7 linked regions of the Homo sapiens genome follow. The protein of the gene in region 4 interacts with the protein of the main gene of each other region in a pairwise test. Each region holds a gene or a part of one and is shown on either strand. Other genes may lie near its edges.

The links.
Region 1: the proteins of H4C11 (region 4) and KDM4A interact in binary tests that used the Homo sapiens proteins (3 or more experiments, as listed by UniProt).
Region 2: the proteins of H4C11 (region 4) and HAT1 interact in binary tests that used the Homo sapiens proteins (3 or more experiments, as listed by UniProt).
Region 3: the proteins of H4C11 (region 4) and CBX5 interact in binary tests that used the Homo sapiens proteins (3 or more experiments, as listed by UniProt).
Region 5: the proteins of H4C11 (region 4) and TLE1 interact in binary tests that used the Homo sapiens proteins (3 or more experiments, as listed by UniProt).
Region 6: the proteins of H4C11 (region 4) and KMT5A interact in binary tests that used the Homo sapiens proteins (3 or more experiments, as listed by UniProt).
Region 7: the proteins of H4C11 (region 4) and PHF20 interact in binary tests that used the Homo sapiens proteins (3 or more experiments, as listed by UniProt).

The regions. Positions count from the first base shown.
Region 1 is NC_000001.11:43,656,649-43,660,148, forward strand, and holds part of KDM4A (lysine-specific demethylase 4A), read left to right. Parts: intron 1-3,500. UniProt on the Homo sapiens protein: Histone demethylase that specifically demethylates 'Lys-9' and 'Lys-36' residues of histone H3, thereby playing a central role in histone code. Does not demethylate histone H3 'Lys-4', H3 'Lys-27' nor H4 'Lys-20'.
Region 2 is NC_000002.12:171,977,961-171,981,460, reverse strand, and holds part of HAT1 (histone acetyltransferase type B catalytic subunit), read right to left. Parts: intron 2,215-3,500; coding exon 2,098-2,214; intron 1-2,097. UniProt on the Homo sapiens protein: Histone acetyltransferase that plays a role in different biological processes including cell cycle progression, glucose metabolism, histone production or DNA damage repair. Coordinates histone production and acetylation via H4 promoter binding.
Region 3 is NC_000012.12:54,273,623-54,277,122, forward strand, and holds part of CBX5 (chromobox protein homolog 5), read right to left. Parts: intron 1-3,500. UniProt on the Homo sapiens protein: Component of heterochromatin that recognizes and binds histone H3 tails methylated at 'Lys-9' (H3K9me), leading to epigenetic repression. In contrast, it is excluded from chromatin when 'Tyr-41' of histone H3 is phosphorylated (H3Y41ph).
Region 4 is NC_000006.12:27,822,774-27,824,980, reverse strand, and holds H4C11 (histone H4), read right to left. Parts: upstream 890-2,207; 5' UTR 857-889; coding exon 545-856; 3' UTR 501-544; downstream 1-500. UniProt on the Homo sapiens protein: Core component of nucleosome. Nucleosomes wrap and compact DNA into chromatin, limiting DNA accessibility to the cellular machineries which require DNA as a template.
Region 5 is NC_000009.12:81,592,048-81,595,547, reverse strand, and holds part of TLE1 (transducin-like enhancer protein 1), read left to right. Parts: intron 1-2,273; coding exon 2,274-2,523; intron 2,524-3,500. UniProt on the Homo sapiens protein: Transcriptional corepressor that binds to a number of transcription factors. Inhibits NF-kappa-B-regulated gene expression. Inhibits the transcriptional activation mediated by FOXA2, and by CTNNB1 and TCF family members in Wnt signaling.
Region 6 is NC_000012.12:123,390,632-123,394,131, forward strand, and holds part of KMT5A (N-lysine methyltransferase KMT5A), read left to right. Parts: coding exon 1-155; intron 156-643; exon of another isoform or gene 644-799; intron 800-3,500. UniProt on the Homo sapiens protein: Protein-lysine N-methyltransferase that monomethylates both histones and non-histone proteins. Specifically monomethylates 'Lys-20' of histone H4 (H4K20me1).
Region 7 is NC_000020.11:35,778,515-35,782,014, reverse strand, and holds part of PHF20 (PHD finger protein 20), read right to left. Parts: intron 1-3,500. UniProt on the Homo sapiens protein: Methyllysine-binding protein, component of the MOF histone acetyltransferase protein complex.

The sequences.
Region 1 (3,500 bases), on a different chromosome or scaffold from region 4:
TTTTTAATGTTTAGTTCTCATTTTTCCTGAGATTCACAGAGAATAAATTTTGTGTTTCCTTGTTCAGCTCTGACTACTCCATCTTTTTTTTTTTTTGAGGTGGAGTCTCGCTCGTTCCCCAGGCTGGAGTGCAATGGTGCAGTCTCGGCTCACTGCAACCTCCACCTCCCGGGTTCAAGCAATTCTCCTGTCTCAGCCTCCCGAGTAGCTGGGATTACATACAGGCGCCTGCCACCACGCCTGGCTAATTTTTGTATTTTTAGTAGAGACGGGGTTTCACCGTCTCTACTGTCACCCAAGTTGGAGTGTAGTGGTGCAATCATGGCTTACTGCAGCCTCGACTGCCCAGGCTCAAAATGATCCTCCTTGCTCAGCCTCCCAAGTAACTGGAGGTATAGATAGGCATGTGCTACCGCGCTCAGCTAATATTTTTTATTATTTGCTGCCCAGTTTGGTCTTGAACTCCTGGGCTCAAGCGATCCTCCTGCCTCAGCCTCCCAAAGTGCTGGGATTATAGGCATGAGCCACTGCATCCGGCTGACACCTTAACTCCTTTTATTTATTTTTTTTTTTGAGACAGAATCTCGCTCTGTCGCCAGGCTAGAGTGCAGTGGCGTGATCTCGGCTCACTGCAGCCTCCGCCTCCTGGGTTCAAGCAATTCTCCTGCCTCAGTCTCCTGAGCAGCTGGGATTACAGGCGCCCACCACCACACCTAGCTAATTTTTGTATTTTTAGCAGAGGCAGGGTTTCACCATGTTGGCCAGGATGGTCTCGATCTCTTGACCTCGTGATCCACCCGCCTTGGCCTCCCAAAGGGCTGGGATTACAGGTGTGAGCCACCGTGCCCGGCCAACCTTAACTCTTAAAACATCTACCTTGCTGGCCAACCTGCTGACCGATGAGAGAATTTACATAAAGGCATGTTGAAGAAATGTGGGGCTCTGCAGGTGAAAGGCTGTATCCTTCCTGCCATCCTTATTGTCTGATTTTTGCTACACATGAGGAGCAAACTCACCTGCCTTCTGTTTCTCACATGGAATTCAGCCAGGGGCTTCAGTCTCCTCAGCCTTTTTTCCCTTTTTGTTAAGGCTTTTTCTTTTCTTTTTTTTTTTTTTTTTTGAGATGGAGTGTCGCTCTGTCACCCAGGCTGGAGTGCAGTGGCACAATCTTGGCTCATTGCAGCCTCCGCCTCCCAGGTTCAAGTGATTTTCCTTCCTCGGCCTCCCGAGTAGCTGGGAGCCCGCCACCACGCCCGGCCAATTTTTTTGTATTTTTAGTAGAGATGGGGTTTCACCATATTGGCCAGGCTGGTCTCGCTTTTTCTTCTTTTAGCACACTTGTTTTCCTTTTAAATTAACCAGCCCTATGTCTATTCCTTTCGTCCTAATACATAGCAGATTACCTTTAAAGTAAAAACATAACTTTTTTTTTTTTTTTTTGAGACAGAGTCTCGCTGTGTTGCCCAGGCTGGAGTGCAGTGGCACAATCTCACTCACTGCAATCTCTGCCTCCCAGGTTTAAGCGATTCTCCTACCTCAGCCTCCCATGTAGCTGGGATTACAGGTGCCCACCACCACGCCTGGCTAATTTTTTTGTATTTTTAGTAGAGACGGGGTTTCACCATGTTGGTCAGGCTGGTCTCGAACTGTTGGCCTCAAGTGATCAGCCTGCCTTGGCCTCCCAAATGCTGGGATTACAGGCATGAGCCACCGTGCCCAACCTAAAAACCTAAATTCATGAAACAGATTAGTTGACAATAGGGGAGTTAATTGTATTTCAGAGAGAATGTTAGGTCTCTAAAATTTATTATTCCCTAGGTTGACATTAAAGTGTAAGGCAGTTACTTAGTCAGATTTTTTTTTTTTTTTTTTTGAGATGGAGTCTTACTCTGTGGCGCGGGCTAGAGTGCAGTGGTGCTATTTAGGCTCACTGCAATCTCCGCCTCCTGGGTTCAAGCAATTCTCCTGCCTCAGCTTCCCAAGTAGCTGGGACTATAGGCGCCCGCCACACCACCCGGCTAATTTTTTGTATTTGTTGTAGATACAGGGTTTCACCATGTTAGACAGGATGGTCTTGATCTCCTGACCTTGTGATCCGCCTGCCTGGGCCTCCCAAGTGCTGGGATTACAGGCGTGAGCCATTGCTGCTGGCCAGCTCTGCTAATTTTTAAAGTTTTTGTAGAAATAGGATTTTGCCATGTTGCTGGTCTCAAACTCTTGGGCTCAAGTGATCCTCCTGCCTCAGCCTCCCAAAGTGTTGGGATTACAGGCATGAGCCACTGTACTTGGCTAGTTTGAATCTAAAAGAAGTTTTTTTTTTTTTAATTAAATTTTCAGTATTAAGCTAAAGAGTATAGATATTTTTAGACTGGGTGCATTGGCTAACTTCTATAATCCCATCACTTTGGGAGGCCGAGGTTGGAGGATCACTGGAGGCCAGGAATTTGAGACCAACCTGGGCAACATTGCAGGACTTCATTTCTACAAAAAATAAAAACACCAGATGTGGTGGTGTACACTTGCAGTCCTGGCTACTCGGGAGGTTAGGGCAGGAGGATTGCTTGAGCCCAGGAGTTCGAGGCTACAGTAAGCTATGATCACACCACTGTGCTCCAGGCTGGGCAGCAGAGCAAGGATCTTGTATAGTTTTTTTTAAGGTATAGTTTTCTTTTCTTTTTTTGAGACAGAGTTTTACTCTATGGCCGAGGCTGGAGTGCAGTGGCGTTAGTTAGCTCAGCTCACTGCAGACTCCTCCTCCTGGGTTTAAGTAATTCTCCTGCCTCAGCCCCCACCCTAAATAGCTGGGATTACAGGCGTGTGCCACCACGCCCCTCTAATTTTTGTATTTTTAGTAGAGACCAGGTTTCACCATGTTGGCCAGGCTGGTCTTGAACTCCTGACCTCAGGTGATCCGCCCCCGCCAGGCCTCCCAAAGTGCTGGGATAACAGGTGTGAGCCACACCCCTGGCCAAAGTGTAGATATTTTTATGGCTTTATGTAGATAGGTAGATATAAATATGCGTATATGTGAGTACGTATTTTCCTAATTGGAATATTGGATGTGCAAAAATCTATATTTTTAGAGCTATTTTATATTTTTACTAAAATATTTGTTGTTTTTAGGAGTGATTACTTGGTGAGTGTCAGCCACTGCGTAGGGCGCTTGGGCATATAGCAGGGGTACTTACAAATGAGCCCTCTTGGAGCAGCTTCCTTTTGGCTGGTTCAGGGAGGTGAATGCTGTTGGAAAGCCTTAGCTCTTCACATGCTGCTGGGTTTTGGTTGTCTGTGGATATGTAGGGACCTTGGGTCTTGGTCTGTAAGCCCATTTTCTCCCTGGGTGGCCACCTGAATCTAGCAAGGTGTAGTTTAAGTAGAGTCTCTTCAGAGAGTTGAGGATGTTGTGCTTGTTAAGGAAGACCGGTTTACATCTGTGTGTACATTACCTTCCTCAGGCTTCCTCAGGCCCAGTGCTCATGGAAGGGACGTTGAGGGACTGA
Region 2 (3,500 bases), on a different chromosome or scaffold from region 4:
CATGGCAAATAAAACTTAAATTTTCTTTAAATTTACAAAGGAAAACCAAAACTATGTGTACCTGATACAGTTAGTTAATTTACTTTCTCAAATTGTAATGTAGAATCAACTTGGTCACTTATGTTCCCAGCTATTGTGATGTATAACCCTATAGGTATAGTATATATAAATGCAGCAACAACATTTTATCATTGAGCAACTGTACTCAATAATTATATGTTGAATAAATTAAATATTCTGCCAATCATCCCACTACTCAGCTGCAACTAGATGACAAATTTTCTTCTTTTTTGAGATGGAATTTTGCTCGTCACCCAGGCTGGAGTACAATGGCGCAATCTTGGCTCACTGCAACCTCTGCCTCCCAGGTTCAAGCAATTCTCCTGCCTCAGCCTCCGGAGAAGCTGGGATTACAGGCACCTCCCACCATGCCTGGCTAATTTGTGTATTTTTAGTAGACACAGGGTTTCACCATGTTGGCCAGGCTGGTCTCGAACTCCTGACCTCAGATGATCTGCCCGCCTCAGCCTCCCAAATTGCTGGGATTATAGACGTGAACCACCGCACCTGGCCTTTTTTTTTTTTTAAATTTTTTTTTTTTTTTTGAGATGGAGTCTTGCTCCATTGCCCAGCCTGGATTGCAGTGGTATGATCTCAGCTCACTGCAACCTCTGCCTCCCGAGTTCAAGTGATGCCCTTGCCTCAGCCTCCCAAGTAGCTGGGATTACAGGTACCCACCACCACACCCAACTAATTTTTGTATTTTTAGTAGAGGCGAGGTTTTGCCATGTTGGCCAGGCTGGTCTTGAACTCCTGAGCTCTGGTGACCTGCCCACCTCGGCCTCCCAAAGTGCTGGGATTACAGGCATGAGCCACCACGCCTTGCCTAGATAGCAAATTTTCATTCACATAAGGTGGCATAAACAATATCCATCCTGACAATGTCCAAATGATAAGGCCAATTTGATCTAGGAGGGAAAATATGGAAGATGACGACGAAGTGGGAAAAAAGGGCAAGAAGAATGTTTAAAAATATAATAGTACTAACATGGTTTCGGCTATGGTAAAGTACAAAGATTATATTAATAAATAGCAATAAAGGCTATTTTTAGGAAGAAGAAAGCAAAAGCAAAGAGAATATATATGTATAACTTTGCTTTTATCTGGGAAGAGAGAAAAAAGAGAATATATATATATAACAACTGAGAAGACAAGAAACTTGGGAAAAACAACATAATTTGTTAGGGAAGAGACTAGGCATTCAGATTTTTTAAAGATGCATACAAATGAAAGAAAAGCTAACCATGGTAGACTATCCTTGGGATAAGTTTGTTTGTTTGTTCTGAGACACAATTTCATTCTGTCACCCAGGCTGAAGTGCAGTGGCACAATCTCAGCTCACTGCAACCTCCACCTCTTGGGTTCAAGTGATTCTCGTGCCTCAGCCTCTCAAACAGCTGGGATTACAGGCACGTGTTATCATGCCCAGCTAATTTTTGTATTTTTAGTAGAGATGGGGTTTCGCCATGTTGGCCAGGGTGGTCTTGAACTCCTGACCTCAAGTGATCCACCTACCTCGGCCTCCCACAGTGCTGGGATTACAGGCGTGAGCCACTGCACCCGGGTTTTTTTTCTTTTCTTTTCTTTTCTTTTCAGATGGAGTTTTGCTCTTGTCACCCAGGCTGGAGTGCAATGGTGCAATCTTGGCTCACAGCAACCTCCACCTCCTGGATTCAAGCGATTCTCCTGCTTCAGCCTCCCAAGTCACTGTATTACAGGCGCCCACCACCAAGCCTAGCTAATGTTTGTATTTTTAGTAGAGACAGGGTTTCACCACGTTGGCCAGGCTGGTCTTGAACTTCTGACCTGAGGTGATCCACCCGCCTTGGCCTCCCTGAGTGCTGGGATTACAGGTGTGGGCCACCACGCCCGGCCATGAGTGAGAATTTTTATAAATTACTGGAAGAATATTTCTACTTTTGTAAAAGTTAATTTTACAAAATGACTTGGACTCTCTCATATACTGATATTTGGTAGCTTTTCTTCTGTTTTAAACAGTGAAAAGAATACAGTGTTTAAGATTCTTGAAAGTCCTACCTTATATGGGCTAATTAGTCTTCTTTTAATATCCAGTCTGTAGCTTCTGTATTGTTCGGCATCACTCATGTCAGTTACCAGTAGTCGAAGAATTTCATAAACCCTTCTAGCGTGTTGCTAGAATGAAACAAAAGAAAATGCGAACATTTTCAAAGTAAAAATAATGACACTTTCCCAAAAGAACACAGGATATATTTAATATCTGCCATGAGCAAGGAATTGTGCTAGAAACCAGAGGAAAGGCAATAAAAGTAGTTGCCCTCAAGCAGTCTAGTGGGTAACACAAATGATTATGGTATGGATAATTTAATGTGGCACGATCATAGTTCACTGCAGCCTCAACCTCCTAGACTCAAGCCATCCTCCCACCTCAGCCTCCTGAGCAGCTGGGACCATAGGCATATGCACCACACTCGGCTATTTTTTTTTTTTTTTTTTTTTGTAGAAATGGGATCTCACTTTGTTGCCCAGGCTGATCTTCAACTCCCAGCTTCAAGCAATCCTCCTGCCTCAACCTCCCAAAGTATTAGAGTTACTGGCGTAAGCCACTGCCCCAGCCTTCATGACAGATTTTAAATAGGAATGTAAGCAATATGCACAAATTTTGAGTTTTAAATAAGTCACTCTTTCAGCTACAAAGAAATGGTAGCAAAAAGAAGTGCATAGAGACCAATCAAGAAGCTGAGTTATTACATCACATAAAAAACGATGAGGGCATGAACTGGAACAGCACAAGAAGACCAAGGGGTCAAGGACTCTAGAAACATATGAGAGGAAAAACTGAGAGAAGGATGTGAAAATGTGAGTTTTCACAGCCTAGGAGAGATTTGGGAGGCAGCAGAAAATAGAAAATCTGAAGAAAATTCTAGTCTAAGGGCAAGGATTTAAGCAATGTCAGTATATAGGTAAGAGTTAAAACCATAAGGCTGGTTAAGGTCACCTGAGGAAAGCATATACAGTGATAAAAGGAGAAAGGTCAGAAACCTGCTAGTACAGTGACAGTTAAAAAGCAGACAGGGCTGGACATGGTGGCTCATGCCTGTAGTTCCAGCACTTTGGGAGGCCAAGGTGGGCAGATCGCTTGAGCCTAGCAGTTTGAGAACAGCCTGTAGGAACCCTGTCTCTACAAAAATTAGCCAGGTGTGGTGGCGTACCCCTGCAGTCCCAGCTACTTGGGAGGCTGAGGTGGGAGAGTCATTTGAGCCCAGGAGGTTGAGGCTGCAGTGAGCCGTAGCCGTGATTACACCACTGTACTCCACCTCAGGTGACAGAGCAAGAGACCCTGTCTCAAAAAAAAAAAAAAAGGAAAAGGAAAAAAAAAGACAAATGGTATCAAGGAAATATCAGAAGAATCAGGAAGTTTTTGGTAGCACTGAAGCCAAAGGAGAACCACAGTTTTTCTG
Region 3 (3,500 bases), on a different chromosome or scaffold from region 4:
AGTTCTGATGCAAGTACTCAAAAGAGAAGACAATGTGAAAACAGAACAGAGAGATATGCCAAGGAATGCTGACCATAATCAGAAGCTAAAAGAGGCAAAGAACAGTCTCTCTCCTAGAGCCTCCAGAGGGGCCTCAATATCTTGATTGCAGACTTCTGGGCTCCAAAATTTTGAGAAGAATAAATTCCTCTTGTTTTAAACCACCAAGTCTGTGGTAATTTGTTATAGCAGCCACAGGAAACTAATACATAGGGGGAATAAAATTTTAAACATCATAAAGTGGACATATATAAAACATTACTGATCCAAAAAGAATTGTGTTTCAGATAACCCAAAGAATGTCTAAAACCTTTAATCCCTCATTTCAAAGGGTAAATTGAGGCTACTGCAGGATACAATTTGCCCCAAAGAAATTGGCAGATCTGAGAAGAGAAACTCAGAAAGATCTAATATTTACATAGCTGCTAACAAGAACAGTGTAGGTTTTTCTGCAAACATGCTAGTTGGTAGAGCTCCTGGACAGACTAAACATAGGCAGCAGTTGTCACAGTGGGTGTTCTTCCAGCACAAGTGTAAAGCTGTCATCAGAAATGAATATGTGGCTTCGAGTGGCTTACAGAAATCCAACAAATCTGCATCTTGGACTCTGGACAAGCGAACTCTTCTCAGGATGACCTGGACTCCTTCCTATTAGTACAATGATCAGTTAAAATCATTCTCTATAAGCAAGGAAGAAAAATAAAAGTTTATATCAGGAGAAAAAGATGATTGCCCAGAGTCCGAGTTCACGAATAGCAGATATGTAAACAGCCATACTAAGTCAAGTGGTATCTCATGTTGTAATTTATTACTTTTAAAATCAATATCCATAACACAGCTTTAGGCCCAGTTTCATGTAAGATGAATGGAAATAAAAATAATCTAAGTAAAAGGACAAAATAAAGACTAGAAATGCTTTACCAGGACAGTTATTAATTAAATGGGCTATACCAATAAGATATGGAAATCATGCTATGTGGTTAAAGACCTCAATAGAGCCGGGCACAGTGGCTCATGCCTGTAATTCTAACACTTTGGGAGGCCGAGGCGGTTGGATCATGAGGTCAGTAGATTGAGACCATCCTGGCTAACACGGTGAAATCCTGTCTCTACTAAAAATACAAAAAAATTAGCCAGGCATGGTGGCACGTGCCTGTAGTCCCAGCTACTCGGGAGGCTGAGGCAGGAGGATCGCTTGAATCCGGGAGGCAGAGGTTGCAGTGAGCCGAGATCACGCCACTGCACTCTAGCCTGGGTGACAGAGCGCGACTCTGTCTCAAAAACAAACAAATCTCAATAGAAACAAAAAGCGACTTAGTCTTCCTCAAAAATCTTTGTACCCTGATACCAAACCTTTCTCTTTTCTAGAGTATTGTTAAGGGCTCTGAGAATCTCCAGAATTTCCCTAGCCATATACAAATCCAGCCGCTTCAAATGTAGGCTCACTCTTTCTTTCCCCAACTATCATCCTGCTCACCTACTACCCAAATTGAAGCTTTCCACTTACTAGTTTTCAGACAGAATATATTCCCCTTTAGTAAACACCCCTTTTAGATTTGGTTGCAATAGTAGGTATGTCTCTAAGTTTTTTTTTCTTTTTTGAGACAGTCTCGCTCTGTCACCCAGGCTGGAGTACAGTGGTGCAATCTCGGCTCACTGTAACCTCCGCCTCCCAGGCTCAGCAATTCTCCTGCCTCAGCCTCCAGAGTAGCTGGGGCTACAGGCGTGTGCCACCACGCCCGGCTAATTTTTTGTATTTTTAGCGGAGATGGGGTTTCACCGTGTTAGCCAGGATGGTCTCAATCTCCTGAACTCATGATCTGCCCGCCTCGGCCTCCCAAAGTGCTGGGATTACAGGCATAAGCCACTGCGCCCAGGCAGTATGTCTCTAAGTTCTAAGCACAAGCGTTATAACTTCTGTAATTAGAGGCCCAACACGTATCACATTGGAAGTTAGGATTTCTAACTCTGTGATAGTACCAGAATTTCAATGAAAAATTACCCACTAAAATTTCACCACCAGAGAGAAAAGTTCATCATATCTATTAACTACCACATTGGAGGCTGGGCACAGTGGCTCACACCTGTAATCCCAGCACTTTGGGAGGCCAAGGCAGGCAGATCACCTAAGGTCAGGAGTTTGAGGCCAGCCTAACCAACATGGAGAAACCCCGTCTCTACTAAAAATTAGCCGGACGTATGCCTGTAATCCCAGCTACTCAGGAGGCTGGAGCAGGAGAATTGCTTGAACCTGGGAGGCGGAGGTTGAGGTGAGTCAAGATCGTGCCACCGCACTCCAGACTGGGCAACAAGAGCGAGACTCCATTCCAAAAAAAAAAAAAAAAAAAACCTATCACATTGGGAGACATTTTGCAATATTTTTATTGTTTTCCCTCTTTAAGCATTGTGAGACTTCACAATAAAACAAGCAGTTTTCACTTGCACACGACAGTAAACTAGAAAGTCTCGGTTTGGCTCCTATAATCTTTCAAAGTAAAACACATGAGTAAAAACACCAAATAATGGGTCACTGCTTAATCTGTTTACATAGATACTCCTTGATGGGGTTATGTCCTGATAAACCCATCATAGGTTGAAAATATGAAAAATTGAAAATTCATTTCCTACACCTAATCTACTGAACATCATAGCTTAGCCTAGCCTACCTTAAATGTGTTCAGAATACTTACATTAGCCTACTGTTGGACAAAATCACCTAACACAAAGCCTGTTTTATAATAAAGTGTTGAATATCTCATGTAATTGGTTGATTACTGTACCGAAAGTGAAAAACAGAATGGTTATGTGGATACTTGAAATATGGTTTCTACTGAATGCAAATTGCTTTCCACACCGTTGTAAAGGTGAAAAATCTTAAGTCGAAATATCACAAGCAAGGGACCATCTGTACAAGTGGCTGGGGCTGGAGATGGAAGGAACTGACTCAGAAAGCAATCAAAGTTGGCATGATTTGGTGACCTATTCTTCAGATCAGCAGTCTTTTTCCCCCAAAACCCTGGGTCTATAAACAGCTGTGAAATCAGTTCAATGGAAATTGACTGCTTTCTTAAGACAATGAAATAGTATACTGCAGACAAAAGAATATCAGAGTACTCTGCACGTTTAGTGAAATGTTTCAATGTGTGTACAGGATTAGTGTAAAATATATTTCTTATTGCGGTCAAAAAAGTTTTGAGACGTGGATCCAAAAGAATCCCAGGAAAAGAAAGAGGCTAGCTAGAATCAAGTGAAAAAGAAGGATGTGAGGCAAAGTCTACCTTCTTCAAAAACATATTTGCCATTATTTTAGGAAGCCAAACAAGGACAAGATGCAATCAATCGTATGTGTAAGTTTAAGCAGCAAAAAGTGGTAAAAACTTTTTTTTTCTGAGACAAGGTCTCACTCTGTCGCCCAGACTGGGGTGCAGTGGCATCATCTCGGCTCACTGCAAACTCTGCCT
Region 4 (2,207 bases):
CCCCATCTCTACTAATACAAAAATTAGCTGGGTGTAGTGGCGCAAAACTGTAATCCCAGCTACTCGGCAGGCTGAGGCAGGAGAATCGCTTGAACCCAGGAGGCGGAAGTTGCAGTGAGCCGAGATCGCGCCGCTGCACTCCAACTCGCAGACAAAGACGAAACAAAAAAAACCCACAAATACTTGTGGATTTGGAGGCTTTTCAAAAACGATTTCCGATTACCACTGTCAAGCTCACTACGGGGGTTACATAAACGTTTCTGGTACTGCACATTCTGTGTACGAGTATTTTCTCCATTACGTAAACAAGCTTACGAATTTTGAGCAAGTTTAGACATTACATCTCGTAATTAGTCCTGCCTACAGTGACCCCGGGTGAATGGCCACACGTGTGCCGCTGTGTTCAAAAAACTGTTCCCCCCAGAACTGACTCAGAACCAAGCAAAATTCCGTACCTACCAAAACCACTCCTCAGTGTTACCACTCTTCAGCTGAGAAAGTAGGGTGGCCCTGAAAAGGGCCTTTTATTGATAGAAAGGGACGCTCAACCACCGAAACCGTAGAGGGTGCGGCCCTGGCGCTTGAGCGCGTAGACCACATCCATGGCGGTGACCGTCTTGCGCTTGGCGTGCTCTGTATAGGTCACGGCGTCCCGGATCACGTTCTCCAGGAACACCTTCAGCACCCCGCGAGTCTCCTCGTAGATGAGGCCGGAGATGCGCTTCACGCCGCCGCGGCGAGCAAGGCGCCGGATGGCCGGCTTGGTGATGCCCTGGATATTGTCGCGCAGTACTTTACGGTGGCGCTTAGCGCCGCCTTTGCCAAGACCCTTCCCGCCTTTGCCGCGGCCAGACATGACGAGCAAGAGGAGTCTCACCCAACGCTTTGTGAGGCCTCTGGCCTGAGGCAGCGCCTTTATACGACAGTTGGCGGACCGAACTGAGAACCTGAAAGAAGTCGGCGGGAAGTCCCGCCCCGGTGGGGGAGGGGAAATCTAAAGGGCCAAACCGAAATAGGGGGGAAAAAAAAGCGAGCTTCTTGTTTCCGTGTTCTGAATTTTGTAATGTGCAAAGTATTCTGTTACCACGTTATGAGGCTTTAAAAAATTGCTTTTGAACGCAGAAGATATACATCAATACTGTGGGGAATACAAAAAAGTGACCGGGCTCGGTGGCTGACGTCTGTGATCCCACCATTTTAGGAGGCCGAGATGGGAGTGTACCTGGGCGTCAGGAGTTTGAGATCTGCGTGAGCAAAATAGCGAGACCCCATCTCTACCAAGACAACAATTAAATTAAATTAAAACATTAGTCCAGCATGATAGCGCTTACACTTTAGGAGACACTCTTTTTTTTAAATATATTAAAAAAAAAAACCAGTACAGTAACAACAGCCTGTTATCCCATCTTCCCATCACACAAAGAGCTCTACTGCTAGCTAATAAGATAATTTGGTGAGCAGATAAATGCACATTTTTTCCCACAAAATGTATGCAGTATATGGCATTTTACAACTTCGCGTTGTTTTAATCAATTTCCCTTATTTAAAAAGTTTACAAAAGTGATTTTAATGTCTTTATTATTTCTTCTCCTGAATTCTGCCTGCTACAGTGTTAACCAATTCCCTAGGAATTTATTAATCAACCAGATTTTTTAAATAATTCATCTTTTCCCTGCGGATTAAGTACCACCTTTAACATTATACATACTCGGAACTATTACCAAAATTCTATTCTGTCTATAATTTAATCAAGGTGGTTTGCCAAAGGGAATCTATGTTCACGGTTAAAAGCTTAGAAAATTCACATTAGGAAAAATTTTAAAAGCAGTAATTTATATCTGCTTAATATTCCATCATAAGAATTTTCTAGGTCCACTTTCACAGTATTTCTAGTACTTAGCAATAATGTGCTAATTTTCTTTTCCTAATTTAAAGGAGAACTGTACAAAATTTACTTCCTGAGGAAAATGTAGAATTGAAGCGCTTTGTCACAAAGGATGCAGATTTTAAGGTATTTTGATAACTGTTACTACATTTTCCTCAAAAGTTTTATTCCATTCACTTTTGCCAGCAGTAACTGCTGTGTATGTTTACCAGCATTGAGTATTATGGTTTTTAAATTCTATGTTACATTCAGAATTTACTTTTAGTTTTGTTGATTGAGTCTTGAGTTAATGAACTAGTTACCCAGCAAGATTTATTGATTT
Region 5 (3,500 bases), on a different chromosome or scaffold from region 4:
CGCGCCCAGCCTCAATTGTTTAATTTTATGGAAATTTACTTGTCATTTCTTCAGTATCACCTGGCAATTTTTTTGTTGTTTTTGGACCCAGAGTATGGAGCCTGATTCTGAGTCATAGAACTTGGCTACTGGACTTTGTTCGTTGAGCATTCTTCAAAGCCTAGAATTCTTGTAGGACATGAATAGACTTAAACTCCCATAGTTCTGTGGCAGTCTTCAAGGGCAACAAAATGCTATTTGATTATGACTCCAAGTATCCCATAATAAGTGGCATAGGTTCCTGTTCAACTAACTATAATGTGCATGTTGAAATATCATGTGGACTCGATATATTGCTAAGGACACCAAATAATCCTGTTGGATAAAAAATGAGATTGAGTGGTTTGGTGATGTGAGGGCTTTGAGCTATATTGTTTTTATATGTGTATTTATTCCCCAGGACAGTCTCCATGGTTCCCATTATACGTGCTTATTCATTCAAATTAAGAGTAACATTAAGGATTTGGGCCAAAAAGCTATTTACTATTAGTTACTGGAACCAATTTGCCAGCAGATAACAGATTGAGATTATGTCCTGTGATTGAGTGGAGGGGAAGTTTAAAAGTCTTCATGTGTCTGATATTTTGCTTTTATGGAGGGAAGATAATAGCATGCATTTTATTTTCAAGCAAATGTATGTGGGTTTTAAGTGCAGGGTGCTAGAGACCTGGCATAATCGGTTTTCAGTTTTGTGCTTGCTAAGTTACTTTACAAAATTTGAGTTTGTATTAAAATGAAAATTTAAGCTCTGTGTTAGTACTCATGGTGTTTACATTATATTTAAAGCTGCCAATGACAAGCTCCAGAAAGGGCCCAGACTTTCTCGAGGGTAATGGGAAGGAGGAAGCAGTGCATACTTCACTTATTGTTTATGGTTTGAACTTCTAGCTCTCTTAGTGATTTCAAGTTAAGAAAGTGGAAGTAGTGGTCTTCAAAGTAGAATGTGCATAATTTTTTTTTTTTTTAAGACGTAGTCTTGCTCTTGTCGCCTAGGCTGGAGTGCAGTGGCGCGATCTCATTGTTCTCATTGTCCAACTCCCATTTATGAGTGAGAACATGCAGGGTTTGGTTTTCTGTTCCTGTGTTAGTTTGCTGGGAATGATGGTTTCCAGTTTCATCCATGTCCCTGCAAGGGACATGAACTCATCCTTTTTTTTATGGCTGCATAGTATTCCATGGTGTATATGTGCCACATTTTCTTTATCCATTCTGTCATTGATGGGCATTTGGGTTGGTTCCAAGTCTTTGCTATCCAGCAATTGATTTCTGTCTTTGAAATCAACTTGTGGCCCAGAGGGGCCGTAGGAGCACCAGTCATCTTGCTCTTAGCTCAGGCAGTGGGAAGGAAGAAGAGAAGAGGGCAAGTATGCTCTCTCCCTATTTATTTTTTTAGAGCAGTTATAGGTTCTTGGCAAAATAGAGTGGAAAGTTACAGAGAGTTCCCATATCCCCCATCCCTCTCCCCTCTTTCAAGTTCAGAGCTTCCTCAAAATGCCATCCAACAGCTTCTTCTTACACCTCATTGGTCAGAACATAGGCAGGCTGGGCTAAAGGAGACCGGGGAAGAGTAGTTTTTTAGCTGCACACTTTGCTGTTTTATATAATGGCGTTCCTGACCAAGGTAGGCAAGGAAGATTGTTGAGTAGGAAACCTAAAATCTCTGTTTACAGCCATATAAGATAATCTCTTATTTTCTCTTCCTTAAGCAAGAGAAAGTTGAAGTCCATACCATAAACTGGTATTTTTAGAAAGCTGTTTTTTTGGAGGTTGTTTTTGCTGTTGAAATATATCTACTCTGTTTAATTATTATTAGTTCTTAAGGGCTTCATCTTTAGCAGGGAAAACAATCATTTAAAATTATACTAAGAAATCATACAATTACACAAGATACATGGAAGGAGGTATTTTATGTTCATTTGGAAGTACATTAAGTGTTTTATAATGAGATTTGAGGGAATGCTTTACAGAATGGGTAAGAACAATTTAAAACCCTTAAAAAATTTTACATACAGTTCAATATATATGTCATTTGGTACACGCTAGATTTCTGCTATTAATTATTTTAAATTTGCACCAGCAGTAAATGCTTCAATTTGTATTGATTTCAAAGGAAACTATACAAGAGAATCTTTCCTTTTTTTCATCTTTTTCATAGTCGTAGCACATTGCCGAGATAGGGATTGCTTCCTCTGTAAATGTGTTTTCTGTCTTCTCTCCAATCGTTTTTCCAAAAGTGCATACTCCTTCCACGTTACTGCAGACGGTCAGATGCAGCCTGTCCCTTTTCCCCCCGACGCCCTCATCGGACCCGGAATCCCCCGGCATGCTCGCCAGATCAACACCCTCAACCACGGGGAGGTGGTGTGCGCTGTGACCATCAGCAACCCCACGAGACACGTGTACACAGGCGGGAAGGGCTGCGTCAAGGTCTGGGACATCAGCCACCCTGGCAATAAGAGCCCTGTCTCCCAGCTCGACTGTCTGGTGAGTGAACAGGAACTGGTGCACAAGGGCAATTTCTCCCTGGAGATTCAATAAGGAAATAGCTGTGTGGGCCTGGGTTTTATTCCCATTATGAGGAAATAGAAGCCCCTTCTGTTTCCTGTGTTGGTTATTTAACCCCCTCGGCTCCCCATTTAAATGCGAAGGTTTCATTTGTTGCTGTTGTACTGGCTAAATCCCAGAGTTGATGGATTTCTTTTTAAAAAATATTTTACAGTGGTTTACAGAGGCTCTCCTCATGTATGGATGTGTATTACAAAAGAGAGTTTCCCATTTAATGGACAAAAGCACAACTGGGCCTGGACTCTGATCCCTGCCATCCACTCGTTTTTTAATTGACCTACAGCCTTTAGATAAATATAGAATAGTAAATATTTGATAACATGGCATAAAAACCATTCTGAACAGGGTCTGTGTTTTTAAGGGAGACCTGAGAGAGCTGGTTAGGTTTTATGGCCTTAACTTCAGGAAAGGGTTAAAGGCTGTCACTGCAAAGACCCGGGGCAGCCATCAACGAAAGAGAGCAGTGAGAATGCTTTCCCAGAGTACCTAAGCCACGTCCGCTCAGAGCCTGAGAATACCATTTAGCATTTTTCAGGGACATAAAACATGTTGGGACATGTTCGGATCTCTTTTTTCTTTTTTCTTTGAGACGGAGTCTTGCTCTGTCGCCCAGGCTGGAGTGCAGTGGCCGGATCTCGGCTCACTGCAGGCTCCGCCTCCGGGGTTTACGCCGTTCTCCTGCCTCAGCCTCCCAAGTAGCTGGGACTACGGGCGCCCACCACCACGCCCGGCTAATTTTTTGTATTTTTAGTAGAGACGGGGTTTCACCATGTTAGCCAGAATGGTCTCGATCTCCTGACCTTGTGATCCGCCCGCCTTGGCCTTCCAAAGTGCTGGGATTATAGGCGTGAGCCACCGCGCCCGGCCATGTTCCGATTTCTAAACCATAACCCCAG
Region 6 (3,500 bases), on a different chromosome or scaffold from region 4:
GAACGTATTTACCGGGCAGTCAAAGATCTATTCCTACATGAGCCCGAACAAATGCTCTGGAATGCGTTTCCCCCTTCAGGAAGAGAACTCAGTTACACATCACGAAGTCAAATGCCAGGGGAAACCATTAGCCGGAATCTACAGGAAACGAGAAGGTAAGCTTTTGAAATGGCCTCGTTCTGATCCCAGCTGGTCGGGTTGCAGAAGCCTCTGTCCTCTGCAAGAATGCACATATGTATTTATCCAACCTTTTCAGTCTCAGATTCGAGAGGTTTGAGCCATGTTCTGTCTTGCTGCTGAAAGAATGGCTTGTCCCAGGGTGTGTGCCCTGTTGGTTTGACAGGTTTTCCCTGCTTTCACAAGAGTTAGCATATCCTTCAAGCTTGATTGTCTTGCTTAGTTGCAAAAATAACATACCTGACCCACAATTAGAGAGGCTCACAAGTGCTGAAAGTGCAGAAGTCATGAATTCAGGTTGTACAGACCAGGCAATTGCAGACCTAACTAATGTGTTCATGTAGGGAACTGACTTCCTTCCCTTTTATGAGCTGGCCTTGACCCCATTTCTTTTTCTTTTTTTGAGACGGATTTCCGCTCTCGTCCCTCAGGCTGAAGTGCAATGGCACGATCTCAGCTCACTGCAACCTCCGCCTCCTGGGCTCAAGCGATTCTTCTGCTGCAGCCTCCTGAGTAGCTGGGATTACAAGCGGCCGCCACCACGCCCAGCTAATTTTTGTATTTTTGGTAGAGACGGGATTTCACCGTGTTGGCTAGACTGGTCTCAAACTCCTGACCTCAGGTGATCCACCTGCCTTGGCCTCCCAAAATGATGGGATTACAGGCATGAGCCACCGCGCCTAGCTGCCTTGACCCCATTTCTAAAGTTTCCTGCCAATCAAGCATTTGGTGTTAGTTTCTGAAGCAGCATCCTATGCAATGAGATTTGGAGTTAAAATGTTAAACCCGAAAATACAGGGTTAATGAAAACGGTCTGGTCTTGCAAAACAAACTGAAACCTCTTAGACATCTTGCTCTAATCCAAATATTCCCTTTCAAAGCTGCAGTGGGGAGTGTCAGCTTTCCCCAATTCACCATGCTCTCTTCTAATTAAAACTTGTCTGAAAGAAGCAGAGCCTCTGGCTGCCAGCAGCTCCATACAAGGAAGCCTTGTGTTCGCTAACAGAAAGTGTCATAAATGACGATTTGGCATGACCTCTGGGGCCGGATCTGAGAACCAGGGCTGGGCAAGCCCTGAACTGGGGACAGGAGCCCACCCTGTGCTTGATCTCCCCTGGTACACAGGGCAATATTGTTTTATTTGATCTTCAGATGACTTGGGTTCCAATCTTAAGTTTGCCACCTGAAAGAAGGAGGCTTAGATAGGTTGCTGCTCTCTTCTGAGCCTCTGTTCTCTCATCTGTAAATGGGGAGAGAGGAGTCTGACCTCACACACACAGGACTGTTTTGAAGGGTGGTTGCAGCGTGGATGCCAAAGGGCTTTGTGGTGGACTCCATGTGCCAGCTCTTCACCCCTGGACTGCCAGCTCATCCCTGGACCTGTGGCACTTAGAATTCCTGCCCATAGGGTTGGGGAGAGGCGCTGTCTATAAATGGTAGTTGCCCGGACTCTAGTCCTTTAAAATAGGGCAGTCTATACATTGTACCAAATGGTGGCCTGGTATACAAGCTAGTATATTTGGCTCATGGTTTTACTAAATGGCCATGATTAGAATTTTGGGTCAGAGTCCGGGCATGGTGGCTCGGGTTTGTAATTCCAGCACTTTGGTAGGCCAAGGCAGGAGGATTGCTTGAGCCCAGGAGTTTGAGACCAGCCTGGGCAACATAGTGAGGCCTCATCTCTACAACAATGAAAACAAAAAAAATTAGCCTGGCATGGTGGCATGCATCTGTAGTCCCAGCTGCTTGGGAGGCTAAGGCAGGAGGATCCCTAGCACCCAGGAGTTTAAAGCTGCAGTGAGCTATGATCATGCCACTGCACTCCAACCTGGGGAACAGAGAGAAACCCCATCTCTAATATAAAAATAAAAAGAATTTAGGTCAGCTGGACTTTGGAGACCCCAAGGTCCAGGCTGTGGTCCGTGATTCTGCTGTGATACAGACTGAGTGATAGATAATGTTCACGGGCACCACACACTCCTGGGCCTGATGTCCTGGCTTTAATTCTCTCTGATTTCACCCAGGAAGGTGTGTAGAGGAGGAAGAAAGATCTGGATGGTTTTAATGGTTTTTGTTTGTTTTTTTTGAGACACAGTCTCGCTCTGTCTTGCAGTCTGGAGTGCAGTGGTGCAATCTCGGCTCACTGCAACCTCCATCTCCCGGGTTCAAGCAATTATCCTGCCTCAACCTCCCAAGTAGCTGAGATTACAGGTGCCCGCCACCACGCTCGGCTAATTTTTTGTATTTTCAGTAGAGATGGGGTTTCACCATGTTGGCCAGGCTGGTCTTGAACTCCTGACCTCAGGTGGCCCACCCGCCTTGGCCTCCCAAAGTGCTGGGATTACAGGTGAAGTCACTGTGCCCGGCCTAATGTATTTATTTATTTTTCTGTTTTGTTTATCTAGATATAGTTAATATATCATAACGTTCATGTTAAAGCGTATGAGTCGGTGGTTTTTAGTATATTCACAGGGTTGCGCAACCATTACCACAGTCTAATTCCAGAACGTTTCCATCACCCCAGAAAGGTACCCATTAGGCGTCACCTTCGATTCCCCATCCCTCTAGTCCAAGGTAACCATTAAAGTACTTTCTGTCTCTGTGGATTTGCCTGTTTTGGACATTTCATATGGATGGAATCACAAAATACATAGCCTTTTGTGTCTGGCTTCTTTCACTGAGCATCATGTCTTCAAGGTTCATCCGCGGTGTAATAAGTATCAGTGCTTCATTCCTTTTTTTTATTTTTGAGAAGGAGTCTCTCTCTCTCACCCAGGCTGGAGTACAATGGTGCAATCTTGGCTCACTGCAACCTCTGCCTCCCAGGTTCAAGCTATTCTCCTGCCTCAGCCTCCCAAATAGCTGGGATTATAGGCGCACACCACCACGCCTGGCTAATGTTTTTATATTTTTAGTAGAGATGGGGTTTTACCATCTTGGCCAGGCTGGTCTCGAACTCTTGACCTCAGGGGAGCCACCCTGCCCAGCCCTTCATTCCTTTTTATGGCTGGATAATACTCCCTTTTGTGGATAGGCCACATTTTGTTTATTCATCTGTTGATGGACATTTGGGTTGTTTCCACTTTTTGGCTATTACAAATAAACTGTTACGTTCCTGCATAGATTTTTTTGGGGACATATGTTTTTAATTCTCTGGAATAGATGCCTAGGAGTGAAATTGCTGGGTCATATGGTAACTCTGTGTTTAACTTTTTGGGAAAATGTCAAACTGTTTCTAAAGTGGCTGCACCATTTTATATCTGTGAGCAGCGTACTATTTACTTAATTTTTTTTTCTTTTTTTTTTTTTTTTTGAGACAGAGT
Region 7 (3,500 bases), on a different chromosome or scaffold from region 4:
GGGAGGAGGTTCATGAAAGAGGGAGTCAGTGTTTAATGGGTACAGAGTTATAATTTTTTTTTTTTTTGAGATGGAGTCTCGCTCTGTCACCTAGGCTGGAGTGCAGTGCAGCAATCCTGGCTCAGTGCAACCTCCACCCGCCCCCGCGTTCAAACAGTTCTCCTGCTTCAGGCTCCCTAGTGGCTGGGATCACAGGCATGTGCTACCACGCCCAGCTAATTTTTGTATTTTTAGTAGAGATGGGGTTTTGCCATGATGGCCAGGCTGGCCTCGAACTCCTGACCTCAAGTGATCTACCTGCCTCAGCCTCCCGAAGTGCTGGGATTACAGGCATGAGCCACTGGACCCGGCCCAGAGTTTCAATTTTGAGGAGTTACGGAGATGGAGAGTGGTGATGGTTGCACAACATTATTTAATACCAGTAAGCTATATAACTTAAAAATGGTTAAAATGGCAAATTTTATATTATGTGTATCTGACCACGACAACAACAACAACAAAAATTGAAGAAGAAAGAAAAATGTAGAAAGGCAGCTTGAGTTGGGAGAACTGGGCTTCTACAATTAAAGGATGTTTTGCATGGTCAAGAATGAAGGCCAGGCACAGTGGCTCACGCCTGTAATCCCAGCACTTTGGGAGGCTGAGGCGGGCGGAGACCAACCTGGCTAATACGGTGAAACCCGTCTCTATCAAAAATATGAAAATTAGCCGGATGTGGTGGTGCAGGCCTATAATCCCAGCTACTCAGGAGGCTGAGGCATGAGAATCACTTGAACCCCAGAGAAGGAGGTTGCAGTGAGCCAAGATCGTGTCACTGCACTTCAGCCTGGGTGACAGAGCAAGAATCCATCTCAGAAAAAAAAAAAAGAATAAAATCTTGCTCACGCCTGTAATCCCAGCACTTTAGGCCGAGGTGGGTGGAGCACCTGAGGTCAGGGGTTCGAGACCAGACTGACCAACATGGTAAAACTCCATCTCTACTAACAACAGAAAATTAGCCAGGCGTGTTGGCACATGCCTGTAATCCCAGCTACTTGGGAGGCTGAGGTAAGAGAATCACTTGAACTCGGGAGGCGGAGGTTGCAGTGAGCCAAGATCGTGCCATTGCACTCCAGCCTGGGCTACAAGGTGAAACTCCATCTCAAAAAAAAAAAAAAAAAAAAAAGGGCCAGGCACCAGTGGCTCATGTCTGTAATCCCAGCACTTTGGGAGGCCAAGGCTGGTGGATCATCTGAGATCAGGAGTTCAAGACCAGCCTGGGCAACATGGTGAAACCCCGTCTCTACTAAAAATATAAAAGATTAGCCGGGTGTGGTGGTGTTCGCCTGTAATCCCAGGTACTCAGGAGGCTGAGGCAGGAGAATCACTTGAACCCGGGAGGCGGAGGCTGCAGTGAGCCAAGATCATGCCACTGCCTTCCAGCCTGGGAGACAGAGTCAGACTCTGTCTCAAAAAAAAAAAAAGAAAAGAAAAAAAAGAAAAAAGAATGAGCCAGGCATGGTGGCTCATGCCTGTAATCCTAGCACTTTGGGAGGCCGAGGCGGATGGATTATGAGGTCAGCAGATCGAGACCATCCTGGCTAACATGGCGAAACCCCTGTCTCTACTAAAAATACAAAAAATTAGCCGGGCATCGTGGAGGGCATCTGTAGTCCCAGCTACTCAGGAGGCTGAGGCAGGAGAATGGCGTAAACCCGGGAGGCGGAGCTTGCAGTGAGCTGAGATTGTGCCACTGCACTCCAGCCTGGGCAACAATGTGAGACTCCGTCCCAAAAAAAAAAAAAAAAAAAAAAGAAATCTGGGGTGAGGGTGGCAAAGTGCCTCAGTGCTGGTTTCCAGGCTGCCACCTGTTTGATTTGTAGTTAAAATGACTTACTCAAATTTCTAGGGGAAAAAGCACGTTAGCTAGAGAGAGAGGGATGTAAGAGCACTGGGACAGGAGGCAAAGAAACCTGGACTCCAATCGAGGCCCTGCTTATTAGCCAAATGACCTTGGACAAATTACTCATCTCAGTTTCCTCCTCTGTTAGGACAGGATAATAGGTCAGATGTAAGGATTCAATGACATTTAAGACAGTGCTCCAAAAATGCTAGCTATAGTTATCATTATTGTAAAATGCCCACATTTCCAGACCAAGTTTCCACAACCTCGAAATCCCAACACCTGTGCACCTGTAGAAGCAAGAAAGGCATTGGCCGGGCACAGTGGCTCACGCCTGTAATCCCAGCAGTTTGGGAGGCCGAGGCGGGTGGATCACTTGAGGTCAGGAGTTCAAGACTAGCCTGGCGAACATGGTGAAACTCCATCTCTACTAAAAATACAAAAAATTACCCAGGCATGGTGGCGGGCACCTGTAATCCCAGCTACTCAGGAGGCTGAGGCAGGAGAATTGCTTGAACCCAGGAGACAGAGGTTGCAGTGTGCCGAGGTTGCACCACTGCACTTCTGGGCGACAGAGTGAGACTCCGCCTCAACAAAAAAAAAAAAAGAAAGAAAGGAATGTCAATCCACCAGCTATGGACTTTTTCCATATGAGAAAGAGACCTCTTGAAAATCAGGTCTCTACTAGGACAGAGACCCCCAAATATCCTTCTAAGATACCTGGAAGTCAGCCTTTAAAATCTGAGAATTATGTTCCTGACATGGAATAAACTATCACTGAATAAAAACCTTGGTTTAGGCCAGGCGCAGTGGCTCACACCTGTAAACCTAGCACTTTGGGAGGCCCTGGCAGGCGGATCATGAGGTCAGGAGTTCGAGACCAGCCTGGCCAATATGATGAAAGCCAGTCTCTACCAAAAATATAAAAGATTAGCAGGGTGAGGTGGCACACACCTGTAGTACCAGCTACTTGGGAGGCTGAAGCAGGAGAATCACTTGAATCCGGGAGGCAGAGGTTGCAGTGAGCCGAGATTGCACCATTGTACTCTAGCCTGGGCAACGAAGTGAGACTCCACCTCAAAAAAAAAACAAAAAACAAAACAAAACAAAAAAAAACCCTTTGTTTAAATCCCAAGCCCCTCCTCTTGCTCCTTCCCCAAAGTTCACTGATTCAGGCTCCACCACTCTTTCCTAAAACTGTCCTATTTACATTTAGTCACTCATATTAGGCTTCTAAAATTGTACAGGATTTCTGCCAGCTCATTAGTTCCATTATTTGGCAAAAGAGAGGAAGGTCCAGGTAGGACCTAGCCCAAGATCTAGCAAAGTTGTCAAAGCATTATTACAAATTAAGGGTTCAATTTTTTTTTTTTTTTTTTGAGACACAGTTTCACTCTTGTTGCCCAGGCTGAAGCGCAGTGGTGTAATCTCGGCTCACTGCAACCTCTGCCTCTCGGGTTCAAGCCATTCTCCTGCCTCAGCCTCCCTAGTAGCTGGGATGACAGGCACCTGCCACCACGCCTGACTAATTTTTTGTATTTTTAGTAGAGACGGAGTTTCACTGTGTGTTAGCCAGGCTGGTCTTGAACTCCTGACTTCAGGTGATCCATCCGACTTG